2 linked regions of the Homo sapiens genome follow. The protein of the gene in region 2 interacts with the protein of the main gene of each other region in a pairwise test. Each region holds a gene or a part of one and is shown on either strand. Other genes may lie near its edges.

Region 1 (7,406 bases), on a different chromosome or scaffold from region 2:
CGCTGAGGCCCTCGTGGGTGAAGGCGAAGTGGGACGGGGGAGGGTGTGGGCCGGGGGCCGAGGGGGGATGTGAGGGGATGGAGCTCAGCTGGAGCAGGGGGTGGTCTCTGGGAGAGGCAGAGGGGCTCATCAGCGAGGGGGGGTTACTATGGGGAGGGTCTCAGGGAGGGCAGCGGAGGGGATGGGGGTTCAGAGAGGGAGAGGGGTTCCGTGAGTAGAGGAGACCCGTAGGGAGAGTGAACTGGGGTGGGAAACGTGGTTTAGGGCCCACTGTAACCCCGGTCCTATGTGTGGGGCCCTGAGGACATACAGGGACTAGAGGCCTGGCTGTGGGGCCGGGGCCAGGGCCAGCGGTATGACTGCCCGAGGCCTTGTGTCCTGCGATGCTTGTGGCCAAGACTGCATACATTGCTGTGACGGTGGCTGGTTAGGGGCAGGGTGCATGAGAGATTGGGTCAGCTTTCTACATGGGCCGGATGCCGGCTGTCAGTGGAGCACGTGGCTGCTGCAGAGTGTGACCCAGCTGTCCCCATCTCCTGCTGTGGGTCCCTTATCCGGGGTCCTTCCGGGAAAGTGGCTGATGGCTCATGGCTCACTTCCCTCAGCTCCACGCAGGCCTGGGTGGCCCGCTGGGGAATGAGCAGAAACCCTGCCCAGGGCACCCTGACACTGTTGGAGAGGAGCTTTACTGCAGGGAGGCCCTCAACACACACCCACTTAGTGTCACCGGCGGCCGCCAGGCTTCAGGCCCCACTCCACTCCCAGCTCTCTCCCTCCTCCAATGGCTATGCCTGTCCCCCAGGTGCACCCCGAGCCAGGCCCAGGATCTTCAGGCCCCACCGGGCAGTCTCGGCTCACTGCAACCTCCGCCTCCTGAATTCAAGCAATTCTCATGCCTCAGCCTCCTGAGTAGCTGGGATTACAGGCTCCCACCACCACGCCTGGCTAATTTTTATTTTTGTTTTTGTTTTTGAGACGGAGTCTCACTGTGTCACCCAAGCTGGAGTGCAGTGATGCGGTCTTGGCTCACTGCAGCCTCCGCCTCCTGGGTTCCAGCGATTCTCCTGTCTCAGCCTCCTAGGTAGCTGGGATTACAGGCACGCGCCACCACACCCAGCTAATTTTTGTATTTTTAGTAGAGATAGGGATTCACCACGTTGGCCAGGCTGGTTTCGAACTCCTGACCTCAGGTGATGTGCCTGCCTTGGCCTCCCAAAGTGCTAGGCTTATAGGTGTGAGCCACTGTGCCTGGCCGATTTTGGTATGTTTAGTAGAGATGGGGTTTCACCATGTTGGCCAGGCTGGTCTCAAACTCCTGACTTCAGGTGATCCACCTGCCTTGGCCTCCCAAAGTTCTGGGATGACAGGTGTGAGCCACCACACCCGGTCGGATCATTTTTTAAAAACTAAGTCGAGGTCTCACTATGTTGCCCAAGGTGGTCACAAACTCCTGGGCTCAGTCCATCCTCCTGCCTCAGCTTCCCAGCGTGCTGGGATTAAAGGCATGCCCAGCCAGCATCTTTTTTTTTTTTTTTTTTTTGAGACTGAGTCTTGCTCTGTCAGGCTGGAGTGCAATGGCGCAATCTCGTCTCACTGCAACCTCCTCCTCCCAGATTCAAGCAATTCTCCTGCCTCAGCCTCCTGAGTAGCTGAGATTACAGGCCCCCGCCACCACGCTTGGCTAATTTTTGTATTTTTAGTAGAGACAGCATTTCACCTTGTTGGCCAGGCTGGTCTTGAACTCCTGACCTTAGGCGATCTGCCCACCTCGGCCTCCCGAAGTGCTGGGATTACAGGCCTGAGCCACCGAGCCCAGCCTCAGCACCATTTTTAAAAGGTGCAAATGCATCTATTTCTGCTTGCTTTCTTTATTTTTTAAATTATTTATTTATTTATTTTGAGATGGAGTTTCACTCTTGTTGCCTAGGCTGGAGTGCAATGGTGCAATCTCGGGTCACTGCAACCTCCGCCTCCTGGGTTCAAGCGATTCTCTTGCCTCAGCTCCCAAGTAGGTGGGATCAGAGGCATGCGCCACCATGCCCGGCTAATTTTTTTTTTTGTTTTTTTTTTTGCATTTTTAGTAGAGATGGGGTTTCACCGTGTTGGCCAGGCTGGTATCAAACTTCCTGACCTCAAGTGATCCACCTGCCTTGGCCTCCCAAAGTGCTGGGATTACAGGCATGAGCCACCGCACCTGGCCACTAATTTTTTTTTTAATTTCATTTTTATTTTTGTAGATAAATATACACGTAGCCCCTCGCTTATCCCTGTCTGTAAGGGCCTCAGTTTCTTGCTGTGTTGCCTAGGCTGGCTGATCTTGAACTCCTGGCCTCAAGTGATCCTCCTGCCTCAGCCTCCCAAATGTTGGGATTACAGGCATGAGCCATGGCACCTGGCTATGTATTTATTTTTTGAGAGATGGCAGTCTCATTCTGTCACCCAGGCTGGAGTGCAGTGGTGCAATCATAAACTCATTGCAGCCTCAAACTCCTGAGCTCAAGTGATTCTCCCACCCCAGCGTCCTGAGTAGCTGGGACTACAGATGTGTACCACCGCATCTGGTCTATTTCTGCTTTCTTGGAGGCAGAGTACCTCTCCCCATCCTTACCCACTCAGAGGGTGCTAGGGGCTGGGCAGGGTGGGCGGTTGGCCTTGGGCTGGGAGCCCCTAACATAGTGGTCTGAGTCCATTTCCATTGCCGGAGAGGCCACGTTCAGCATGAGCTGGGGCAGGGGGCTTGTGGGGTCTCTTACTCCAGGGTACCATCTCGCTTGGATCCCAGTGAGCCCTCCCATGCCCCACACCCAGGTGGGGTGAGGTGGCCCAGGTCTGGCTGCCCTGTCTGCAGGGGTGGGCACCCATGGTAGCTGTGAGGCAGAATAGGGAATGAGGGTAGCCAAGGGTTGGGCATAAGAAACGGAACAGCAGGTGCAGCCAGTTCTAGGCAGGATTGGGCAGCTCACAAGCCACATCCTGGCTGCTGTGATAACAAGACAGAAATTTCCACTTCACCTCTGATTGGTCTCGGGCCAATCCTTCATAGGGTGTAGCCAATTGGAGGCCTCTAAAGGGCACAAGGGCTGTGGTCAGGTTTCTTTGCTTAATAAAAATCCTAATTACAGAGGCTCTGGAGCTACTTGCTCCAGCCCACTCCCACTCTGTGAATTGCCTTCCGTTAAATCTGTGCTTTCCTTACTCCGTTCTTCTGACTCAGTTTTGTTTCCTTGTGTTTCGTTGTTCTTTTGTTACTTTGTGCGTTTTGTTCAATTCTTTGTTCAACCCACCAAGAACCTGGACAACTCACCTCCAAGACCTTCTATCTGGTAACAGCTGCAGGAGCTGGAGCTGTGGGCCTGGGGACAAGTGTCCTAACAGCCCCCGCTCCCTGCAGCGAAGGGTCAGCAGAGGTGGCGCTCTAGGGGGGCCTGGGCACAAGTTCATAGGATCCTGCCCTGGAAAGGTTGTGGGCAGTTGGGGGGCAAGGGAGACAGTCCCCACCCAAACCCCAATGCCCCCTAGCACCCAAGGTGGTCTTCTCTCAATTGAGGAGCTCTTTGGCAAGGGCGGGTCTAATTTCTGGTGTCCCTGGAACCGGCCAGGGGTGTCTAAGAAAGGGACTCAGGCTGGTGTTCGGACCCCTTCTCCCTTATCCAGACGCAGGCCTTTGGTCCAGCTGTCCCAGCCAGGGCCTGCTCACCCCTGTCCCCTGCCGGGTCCCATCCCCCCCACCCACCCACAGGTCTCAGTTTAGGTGTCAATATCAGAAGCCCCCTCTGTGCTCCGGTCTCTGTACTCCGCCCCCTTGTCAGTGTCCTCTCCCTGAGGACAGGGGGCTCGGTAACTGGGTTTCCAAGAGCCCTGCAGGGACACCCCCTCTTGGGAACTCACACAGCGCAGCCAGGTCGCTAAGCCTTTGAGGGGCCCTTGTTGCCTCCTGGGTGTGCGTGCGACCCGCGCCCACTGTGGTCCCGCCCTACTGATGACCGTGAACCTGTAGGGTGTTGGGCCAGCCCCTCACCCCAAGGCTGGGCAGGCCCCCGGAGTCCCCCTCGGCCCAGACAGAAGCTCCCTCAGGAGCGGGGGAGGGGAAGGGGGCGCGCGGTCCGGCCCCAGGTGTGGCCGCGGATAATGAGACCCTGGGGATGGGGGCGCACCTGCGCCACGGCGCCCCGCAGAGGGTTTCCCAGGAGACCCCCTCGGGCTCCCGCCGCGCCGTGGGGGTGGGGCAGCCCTGCTGGCCAGAGCCGGGCACGGGCCGGGCGGGCGGCGGGGATCGTGACCGCGGCTGCGTGCGTCCGCGTCCGGGCGCTTCTGTGCGGGGTCCTGGCACGCCGGCGGGGGCGACCCGGGTGCCGGCCCGTGCGGGCGACACGCGCGTCTCTGCGGGGCTGCGCGGGGTCCGGAGCGGCTGGGGGCTCTCTGCCGGGCGCGGCTGGGCGCGGGGGGCGCTCCCGGCCGGGATGAGCTCACCGCAGTCGCGCCGGGGCTGAGCGCCGAGCGGGGCGGCGGCGGGGCGGGCGGCGGCTCCTCGGCGGCTCCGCGGCGCCCGGGCCGCGCGCCGCCATGCTGGGCCTGGACGCGTGCGAGCTGGGGGCGCAGCTGCTGGAGCTGCTCCGGCTGGCGCTGTGCGCCCGAGGTGAGCGGGCCGGGCAGGGGCGGGGGGCTCGGCTGGTCTCAGCCCCGGGCGGGGAGTAGCCCCTCCCCCGCGGCAACTTTGGGGGCGCGCATGGGGACCTCGCGGCGCCGACCCCCCGGCTGGGGTCTGGCAGGGGTGGGGGACTTCATCCAGGCTCCAGCCCTGTGGGGAAGGGACCAGGTGCGGACGGGTCGGCTTGGGAAGCGGCGGCGCTGGGACCCTCTCCCCCTGGACACCGCCGCCTGGAGCCCCTCTGTCTTGGGTGGGGCTGGGGCTGGGGCTCAGGCTCTGTAGGGCGTGTGGTGATCCCCGAGAAGACGGGAGCGAAGTGGGCAGGGACTCAGAAACCCCTGCCCAGGGCACCAGGGAGAGGGGCTTCAGGAGGCCACCAGCCCGGGGCGCCATGGGAGGCGGCGCAGAGCCTGAGCCCAGGGATTTGGAGACAGCCGCCCCCGGCACCCGAGCACCATGGGGAGGAACTCCTAGACTGTGGGAAAGTGTTCAGAGACCCCAGTCCAGAGCAGGGTGGTGGAGGGCCCTAGAGGGTCAGTAGGCTTGGGGGGCCGCCGAGGGCCCTAGAGGGTCAGTAGGTTTGGGGGCCGCCGAGGGCCCTAGAGGGTCAGTAGGTTTGGGGGCCGCCGAGGGCCGCTGCTCTCTAGCAGGTAGCCCCTGACCCTGGGCTGCCCTCATCTGAAGTCTTCGCTCCCCCGCCCTTTGGTCTCCGAGTCAGGGAGGGGGCCCTTGTGGACATCTGGGCCAGAGGAGCTGCAGGCCTGGCGGTCTCTGGAGGCCCCTCCTGAAGGTCTGGGTGCGGTGCGGCACCTCCCCAGGCCGCCCTGCTCTCTCTGCTCGCTCTCTCCCTGAGCCCCCAGAGGCTTCCCTTGAGTCCCTTTGGATAGTGGGAGGTACAGCTGGCCAGAGGGGGCTCCAGCCTGGTGCTCGAATGCCAGGGTCCGCTAGTGGCTGCTGCTCACGCCCCTCCCCACCCCCAGTCCTCCTGGCTGACAAGGAGGGTGGGCCGCCGGCAGTGGACGAGGTGTTGGATGAGGCTGTGCCCGAGTACCGGGCGCCGGGGAGGAAGAGCCTCTTGGAGATCCGGCAGCTGGACCCGGACGACAGGAGCCTGGCCAAGTACAAGCGGGTGCTGCTGGGGCCCCTGCCACCGGCCGTGGGTATGGCAGGGGTCTAGGCTTGGAGGGCTGGGTCTGGGGGGCTGGTGAGGAGCCTGGTGGGGGTGGGGGGCATCCTGCAGACTTCCAGTTTCTCCTCAGACCCAAGCCTGCCCAATGTGCAGGTGACCAGGCTGACACTCCTGTCGGAACAGGCTCCGGGGCCCGTCGTCATGGATCTCACAGGTAACTCGCAGGATGCTGCACCCTGAACACAGGTAGGGCCCTCCCAGGCACGCTTCTGCACCCCTGAGTTCCGAGCCCTGGGCCATCACAGTCGCACACCTCATGGGTACCACACCCTACGTGGGGGCTCCTGGAGCAGGTCTCAGCCTGTAGGGGAGTTCCGACCCTAGCTGAGGTTTCCCCAATAGGGGACCTGGCTGTTCTGAAGGACCAGGTGTTTGTCCTGAAGGAAGGTGTTGATTACAGAGTGAAGATCTCCTTCAAGGTGAGAGCCGGGGCAATGGGCGGAGGGGATGGGGGTGGGGGCAACAGCCAGAGGCCTGGCCCCCAGAGGAACCCCTAATGCCTCTGTTCCCAGGTCCACAGGGAGATTGTCAGCGGCCTCAAGTGTCTGCACCACACCTACCGCCGGGGCCTGCGCGGTGAGGGCAGCGGTGGGGGGAACGGGGCGGGGGGGGGAAGCGGGGGCAGACAGAGGACAGCTCTGATGCCCTCGCCCTCCCTAGTGGACAAGACCGTCTACATGGTGGGCAGCTATGGCCCGAGCGCCCAGGAGTATGAGTTTGTGACTCCGGTGGAGGAAGCGCCGAGGGGTGCGCTGGTGCGGGGCCCCTATCTGGTGGTGTCCCTCTTCACCGACGATGACAGGACGCACCACCTGTCCTGGGAGTGGGGTCTCTGCATCTGCCAGGACTGGAAGGACTGAACCCCCAGTCCGTGTCTCCCCTACCTCCCTCAGTTGTTGCACAGGGACCCCCAAGCATCCCCAGCACCCCCCGTGAGTGACCAGACCCTCCCCTGCTGCCCCTGCTGCCCCTGCTGCCCCTGCTCTGTCCCGGGACCCCCTGGCCTGGCGCTGTCCCCTGAGCTGTCCCATTAAACATGGCCCTGTCTCTCTCGGTGCCCTGGGTGTCGTCTCTTTCTGCCTCCCCTCCCCTGGGGGCCGGGGGCGGCCGCATGGGCCTTGTCTTTGCTGGGACTGGGCCTGTGTGCCACGTGGCAGCTGCTGCTTGGCTTCTGGCCCCCTTATCTGCCCCCGCCCCACGCGCCCTGGCAGCACCATGAGCCGCCAGCTTCTGCCTGTACTGCTGCTGCTGCTGCTCAGGGCTTCGTGCCCATGGGGTCAGGAACAGGGAGCGAGGAGCCCCTCGGAGGAGCCTCCAGAGGAGGAAATCCCCAAGGAGGATGGGATCTTGGTGCTGAGCCGCCACACCCTGGGCCTGGCCCTGCGGGAGCACCCTGCCCTGCTGGTGGAATTCTGTGAGTGCTGGGGCCAGTGGGGCTGGGGACCGGCGGGGGACCGGCAGAGCCCACCTGGGGGCCCCACCCTTTGCCGGCAAATGCAGGGCATGTGCCCAAGAGGGGCCTCCCCGCAGGCACTTGCCCCCACTGTGCCCAGGAGCTCTCTAGGAGGG
Region 2 (7,016 bases):
GTGGCCCCTGCATGTAACTTATGTTAGAAATGCACAATGCTTGTTCTCTGGTGCCACAAAGAAATAGTGCTCGAACATTAATTTTCTCAGCAAGGCAGTTTTTACTTTCTGCAGAAAGGGTGCCCCTCGCAGATGGAGCAATGGCAAGAGCACACCTGAACAAGGGAGGGGAAGGGGTTCTTATTCCTGACACAGGTAGCCCTACTGCTGTGTTGTTCCCCTGTTGGCTAAGGTTGGACCACACAGTCTAAGCCAATTCCAATTGGCTATTTTAAAGAGGGCAGGGTAAGAGTCAGAGTGGTGGGGTGAGTAGTTTGACGGGAAGGACGGTTAGGAACAGGTAACTCAAGGTGACTTAGGTCAGAGCAGGTGACCGGGATGAGTCAGGATGGAGCAGGTGACCAGGGAACAGATGTGAACTACTGATTAGGACTGGCGGGAAAATTGTTTACTGAAACTAGAAGCAAGGGGCGAAGAGAACCAGGAATTTTAAATGGAGAATCAAAGAAGAGATCTGGCCGGGTGCAGTGGGTCACGCCTGTAATCCCAGTACTTTGGGAGGCCGAGGTGGGCGGATCACGAGGTCAAGAGATGGAGACCATCCTGGCTAACACGGTGAAACCCTGTCTCTACTAAAAAATACAAAAATTAGCCGGGCGTGGTGGTGGGCACCTGTAGTCCCACCTACTCGGGAGGCCGAAGCAAGACAATGGCTTGAACCCGGGAGGCGGAGCTTGCAGCAAGCAGAGATCACGTGACTGCACTCCAGCCTGGGCGACAGAGTGAGACTCTTGTCTCAAAAAAAAAAAAAGAGATCTGAACATACTGACTTACTGATTCTTTGAAGACAAACTTGGAGTTCACTATATTTAACACTTAGGACCCCTAGTATCTGCCACTGGGCTGCGGGGGCAGCTGCAGGGACACACACCTGTTGGGTGCCTGCTGGTTCCACCCAGGAGCACAGCCAGCAGCCTCATGCCTCCTGCCCCCTGGCAGTCGGGTGCACGTGGAGCAGGTGGCCTTGGCCTCGACAGGGTTCCCAGGGTCCCACTGGAAGCCCCACATGGAACTGTGCCTCTGGGACATTGCTCCAGGGACCTCGGGTGCGGGCTGGCCCCATCCTGTGGGGAGGTCCTGGGAGGGTCAGTCTGGCCCGCCTGCCTGCTGACTTGGGTGTGGCCTGAGCAGGTAAAGGCGACACAGGAGGAGAACCGGGAGCTGAGGAGCAGGTGTGAGGAGCTCCACGGGAAGAACCTGGAACTGGGGTAAGGAGGCCCCGTCTCCTGTCCTCCCCGTCCCCATCCCCCTCGCCATCCTTGTCCCCATCCCCCTCGCCATCCTTGTCCCCATCCCCCTCGCCATCCCTGTCCCCGTCCCCATCCCCACCTGGCCTGGGACCGCTGGGCACCCGAGGCAATGGCTGTGTGTCTGTTCTCCTCCCACAGGAAGATCATGGACAGGTTCGAAGAGGTTGTGTACCAGGCCATGGGTGAGTGCCCGGGCCACCGAGGCCACGTGCCTCCACGAGGGGCTGCCTATGCCCCACCCTGGCCCTGCCCTGCACCCTGCCTAGGACCCCACCCTCCTGAGGCCCCTTTTCCTAACACACGAGTCCCTTCAACATGGGCCCGGCCGTGGAAGCACTGAGGCGAGTTGCGGGGAAGCTGGTGGTAGTGAGGCTGGTGGCTCCCACGGAGCCAGGGCTTGGCAGGCCCCACAGTTGTGCAGATGCTGAGCTAGCAGTGGGGCTGTGGTGGGAGCAGAGTCTGTCCCGCCGTGGCCTACCCCACTCCACCCTGCCCTCGCCGTGCGGCTATGTCTAGCAGCAGCCTCTGTAGGTGTCTGGCAGGACGGGAACACCAGGCCTCATCTGGCCTCCCAAAAGCTTGGGCTCCTGGAGGTGCTACTGTGGGGATCTGTCTTAGGCTGAGTGTCAGCCGGCGGCAGGTGACCGCCTGGCCCTTGCAGTCCCTCCAGGACCACCACGAAGCACGACGCACATCCTGGAGCTCGCCATACCGGCTCCCAGGCCTCACCCTAGGCTCTAGGGTGTTGGGCGCCGCCTCTTCAGGGACCTCTGGCCCAGGCTCCAGTTCCCTGCGGATCTGATGTGGAGGAAACAGCTGTTTCCTGGGCTTTGCATCCGGCCTAGAAGATCCTGGGTGGAGGGACCCATCACCCTCCGAGGCTCACACCCACTGCCCACCTCTCCTCCTGGCGCTCGAGTCCCTTGCCTCATTCCTTGGGCTGTCTCTGGCACCCATCGTTTCGGTTGCCTCCTCATCCTGAACGTTTGCTTTTCTTTTCTCAAGAGGAAGTTCAGAAGCAGAAGGAACTTTCCAAAGCTGAAATCCAGAAAGTTCTAAAAGAAAAAGACCAACTTACCACAGATCTGAACTCCATGGAGAAGTCCTTCTCCGACCTCTTCAAGCGTTTTGAGAAACAGAAAGAGGTGATCGAGGGCTACCGCAAGGTATGTCTCCGCCACCCTGGTGTCCTCACCTCGGAGGCTGATGGACTCATGGTCCAAGCCAGCGGGGCTACAAGCTGCTGTCTTTGCACCTTGGTCCTTGGCCAAGCCTCCCCTTGCCACGGGGGCATGGGATGACCTGTGAACGAGACAGGGTGCAGGAGTCACAGCATAGCTGGTTTGCGAGGCAGCTGAGGGCGGCAGGAGGCAGAGTGAGCAGGGAGGCCATCTGAGCCGTCCGCTGTTGTGTGACAGACGACTCGGCTATGATCAGGCATCTGTGAGATTTGAGACAGCGCTGGTGCACCGGGGCCTGGGGCACCTCGGAAAGGTGTCTGGGCTGTCCGAGCGCTTGGGTCCCAAGGGTTGGGGACCCAGGGCATGCAGTATCCAAGGCGGGAGGCCCACTGAAAGGTGGTCACGGCTGTGCAAGGCCACCCTGGTGTCCTCCTGGCCACGGGACTCTGAGCGCCCCCCACCTTCTGTGCTGGGCAAGGCCCACATGCTTGCTGGAAGGAGGGATGTCTGGGCCATCCATCTGCCCAGAGCAGGCCTGGAAGGTGCCTGCGAGGCCGCCAGAGGGTTCTGCCCACAGCAGCAATGTTGGAGCGGAGGTGCTCAACGCCTCCTGTGGAGGAGCTGGACCTGCAGGTGCAGCTGGAAGAGGGGCTGTCACTGTTGGTGCAAGGGGGTTGGGGACACCAGATGGGTCCCCTGGGAGTCAGACTAAACTGGAAAAGCGGCCCTTGCAGGGCCTGCTGAGCCACACCTCATCTGAGTCCTGAAGTCAGGTGGGTGTCAGTGGCTGGGGCCCAGCTGCCTAACAGAAGCAAGCCTGAATACTCTAGGGAAGAAGGTATCTTATGCTTTAAATTGCTGCTGCAGTTTTAAATTAGTGTCTGGCACAGAATAACCAAGTGTGAAAGGAACAGGAAACATGAGTGAAAATCAGACCCGTTATTAGAGTGAGGCATGGTGATGTACACCTGTGGTCCCAGCTACTAGGGAGGCTGAGGTGGGAGGATCATTTGAGCCCGGGAGGTCGAAGCTGCAGTGAGCCATGATTGTATCACTGCACCCCCAGCCTGGGCAATAGACCAAGACCCCCATCTCTAAAATTAAAAAACAAAAACAAAAACTGTTGATAGACCCACAGGAGCCCCAGACGCTGGAGTTGGCACCGGCAGGTGGTGCCTCAGGTCTGCAGGGAGCAGATGGGAAGGGCCCTGTGGCAGCAGAGTGCCCACCGGCAGCAGAGTACAGCAGTCTGGCCCAGCACAGACGCTTGGAGAGGCAGGACTCTTCACACGGTGCTGCTGGCTTGAGGACACAGCGGCTTTGCTGACCTTCCCTCAGGTTGGGCTGTGGTGTGAGCAGCTGCCTTGGCCTCGCCTCTCCCCGGGGCAGGCCTGTGCCTCAGCTCCCACTGGCCACCTCCCTACTTCCTCATGGAGGCTCCTTTGCACATCTAATCCCATCTTGGACGACCCAGTGCAGACTTTAAAGTAATTGTCTTCTGTATTCAGAAGAGTATTGCTTCAATAGAGACCTTGAAACTAGAAAAGAATCCCCTTCGGGAGACCGAGACGGGTGGATCACTTGAGGTCAGGAGTTCGAGACCAGCCTGGGTTACATGATGAAACTCCGTCTCCTAAAAATACAAAAATTAGCTGGGCAGGGTGGCATTTGCCTGTAGTCCCAGCTACTCAGGAGGCTGAGGTAGGAGAATCACTTGAACCCAGGAAGTAGAGGTTGCAGTGAGCCAAGATCGTGCCACTGCACTCCAGCCTGGGCGACAGAGTGAGACTCCATCTCAAAAAAAAAAAATACAAAAATTAGTTAGGCATGGTGGTGTGCACCTATAGTCCCAGCTACTCAGGAAACTGAGACAGAAAATCATTTGAACCTGGGAGACAGAGGTTGCAGTGAGCCGATATGGCACCATTGCACTCCAGCCTGGGCGACAGAGCGAGACTCTCTCAGAAAACAAAAAATACAGAAAAACTAGGCCGGCTTATGCCTGTAATCCCAGCACTTTGGGAGGCCAAGGCGGGAGGATCATGAGGTCAGGAGTTCAAGACCATTCTGGCCAACATGGTGAAACCCTTTCTGTACTAAAAATACAAAAATTAGCTGGGCATGGTGGCAGGCACCTGTAGTCCCAGCTACTTGGGAGGCTGAGGCAGGAGAATCAATCAGGAGGTGGAGGTTGCAATGAGCCAAGATCGCGCCATCACACTATGGCCTGGCGATAGAGCGAGACTCCGTCTCAAAAAAAAAAAAAAAAAAGCCTGGGCACAGTGGCTCACGCCTGTAATCCCAGCACTTTGGGAGGCCGAGGCGGGTGGATCACGAGATCAGGAGTTTGAGACCAGCCTGACCAACATGGTGAAACCCTGTCTCTTCTAAAGATACAAAAATTAGCCGGGCATGGTGGCACGCACCTGTAGTCCCAGCTACTTGTGAGGCTGAGGCAGGAGAATCGCTTGAATCCGGGAGGCGGAGGTTGCAGTGAGCCGAGATCATGCCACTTCACTCCAGCCTGAGTGACAGAGTGAGTCTCCGTCTAAAAAAAAAAAACAGAAACTAGAAAAGAACCAAATGGAAATTTCTAACAGGTACACAGTTAACAACATTAACAATTCAAAGGGTACAGGTCAGATGAGGGAAGCAGAGGCTGAGTTGGGAACCAGTGTGTGGACGGCAGCCCCCAGAGCCAGAGGGAGAGACGCCGCTGTGGCGGGAGGCTTGACCTGTGCACACGTGAGAGCTTCCGGATGCCGCCTCCCGGACAGACGCTGTTGGGAATTTTCCACAGCAGAGAAACACAGTGCTGTGGGTTTAAGGGAGGCGTGACCTCCGCAGGACATCAGGGGCTGCATGCTGGGTAGGGGCTCAGGGAGAGGCTGCAGTGCTGAGGGTGCTTCTGGGATACAGGGCTGCGACAGAGGAGTGAGGATGGCTGGGCTGTGAGGCCGCTGGGGGCACTGCAGGAAGAAGGCAGGTAGGCTGAGCCTTCCCAAGCAGAGGCCACTCGGGGACCCAGGAACCCCTCAGTTAGGGCTTCTCAGTCACTGAGCGGAAGGTGCCCCCAGAGGGGGCAGCAGCCTGTGAGGAGCAGGCGTGTCTGGGTAACCATGTGGCTCCTGCTGGCCTCCCCTGCCTGTCCCCAAAGCACAGGGCTCAGCTCCAGAGGGAGACGGGCTGGGCTGTCAGTGGTCCCAGGTGCATCCCACTTTCCAGCAGCACTTGGTGCCAGCAGAGGCTGCAGGTGTGGCAGGAGGGGGCCCAGCCGTGAGGGCACCAGGTTCAGGCCCGGCATCTCAGGGTGGAGAGCCAGGGCTGTCCTGAACCTCCAGAGGGGGTGAGCTGGGAACTTGTGTGAAGGGGCTTTTTCCAAAAGGAAAACGGGAGCTACTGGCTCACGGCTGATGCCCCAGACAGCCTCGAGGATCTGCAGGTCCCCAGACACCAAGCCTGGGTGCTCTCCAGCAGACGGCGTGGTACCCACAGCTAATGCCTGCCCCTTCCTAGAACGAAGAGTCACTGAAGAAGTGCGTGGAGGATTACCTGGCAAGGATCACCCAGGAGGGCCAGAGGTACCAAGCCCTGAAGGCCCACGCGGAGGAGAAGCTGCAGCTGTGAGTGCTGGGCGAGGCCCCACCCTGGAGGGAGAATCTGAGCACCTGGGCCCCAGCTCAGCCTCTGCCCCGCCCCTACCCCTCCAGGGCAAACGAGGAGATCGCCCAGGTCCGGAGCAAGGCCCAGGCGGAAGCGTTGGCCCTCCAGGCCAGCCTGAGGAAGGAGCAGATGCGCATCCAGTCGCTGGAGAAGACAGTGGAGCAGAAGGTGGGTGCGGGAAGCCCAGCTCAAGGGGCCGTCTGGCAGCACCTTCTAGAAGGCCCTTGGGCCTGCTGCTCCCTCCAAGCAGGGAGAAGCCCCGCAACTCATCTTCCTCCTCCAGACTAAAGAGAACGAGGAGCTGACCAGGATCTGCGACGACCTCATCTCCAAGATGGAGAAGATCTGACCTCCACGGAGCCGCTGTCCCCGCCCCCCTGCTCCCGTCTGTCTGTCCTGTCTGATTCTCTTAGGTGTCATGTTCTTTTTTCTGTCTTGTCTTCAACTTTTTTAAAAACTAGATTGCTTTGAAAACATGACTCAATAAAAGTTTCCTTTCAATTTAAACACTGAAGCCGCTCTGGTCTTGATGAAGCAAAGGTTTCCCAGCTCTAGCCTGAGGCTGAGCCGACCCGCAGGTGCCCTCCCTTCCCCTCAGAGCTGGCCACTTGGTCCCTGCCTACCCCAGGCTCAGGCCACCCTGCCGAGGGGCAGGGACAGCCAGTGGATAGAGGAGGCTCAGGCCTGCCCAGTCTGCCCCGGCCACCTCGGGTTGGCTACATGGTCCTGGCCTCAGGTACACACATCAAAGTCCAAATGGACTCGTTTTTTTGTTTGTTTTTTTGTTTTTTGTTTTTTTTGAGACAGTCTCTCACCCACGCTGGAGTGCAGTGGCGTGAACTCGGCTCACTGTAAGCTCCGC

Evidence for each region. Proteins that work in one complex are often made in the same cells at the same time.
Region 1: the proteins of TACC3 (region 2) and ARHGDIG interact in binary tests that used the Homo sapiens proteins (3 or more experiments, as listed by UniProt).

What each region holds. Positions count from the first base shown.
Region 1 is NC_000016.10:276,118-283,523, forward strand, and holds ARHGDIG (rho GDP-dissociation inhibitor 3), read left to right. Parts: upstream 1-4,473; 5' UTR 4,474-4,563; coding exon 4,564-4,636; intron 4,637-5,628; coding exon 5,629-5,808; intron 5,809-5,907; coding exon 5,908-5,991; intron 5,992-6,179; coding exon 6,180-6,256; intron 6,257-6,349; coding exon 6,350-6,413; intron 6,414-6,497; coding exon 6,498-6,697; 3' UTR 6,698-6,893; downstream 6,894-7,406. Other genes in the region: PDIA2 (protein disulfide-isomerase A2 precursor), read left to right, coding at 7,053-7,251. UniProt on the Homo sapiens protein: Inhibits GDP/GTP exchange reaction of RhoB. Interacts specifically with the GDP- and GTP-bound forms of post-translationally processed Rhob and Rhog proteins, both of which show a growth-regulated expression in mammalian cells.
Region 2 is NC_000004.12:1,738,511-1,745,526, forward strand, and holds the end of TACC3 (transforming acidic coiled-coil-containing protein 3), read left to right. Parts: exon of another isoform or gene 1-1,188; coding exon of another isoform or gene 1,189-1,191; coding exon 1,192-1,268; exon of another isoform or gene 1,269-1,448; coding exon 1,449-1,492; exon of another isoform or gene 1,493-1,971; coding exon of another isoform or gene 1,972-2,051; exon of another isoform or gene 2,052-2,315; coding exon 2,316-2,476; intron 2,477-4,884; exon of another isoform or gene 4,885-5,027; intron 5,028-6,007; coding exon 6,008-6,114; intron 6,115-6,201; coding exon 6,202-6,322; intron 6,323-6,404; coding exon of another isoform or gene 6,405-6,437; coding exon 6,438-6,503; 3' UTR 6,504-6,661; downstream 6,662-7,016. UniProt on the Homo sapiens protein: Plays a role in the microtubule-dependent coupling of the nucleus and the centrosome. Involved in the processes that regulate centrosome-mediated interkinetic nuclear migration (INM) of neural progenitors.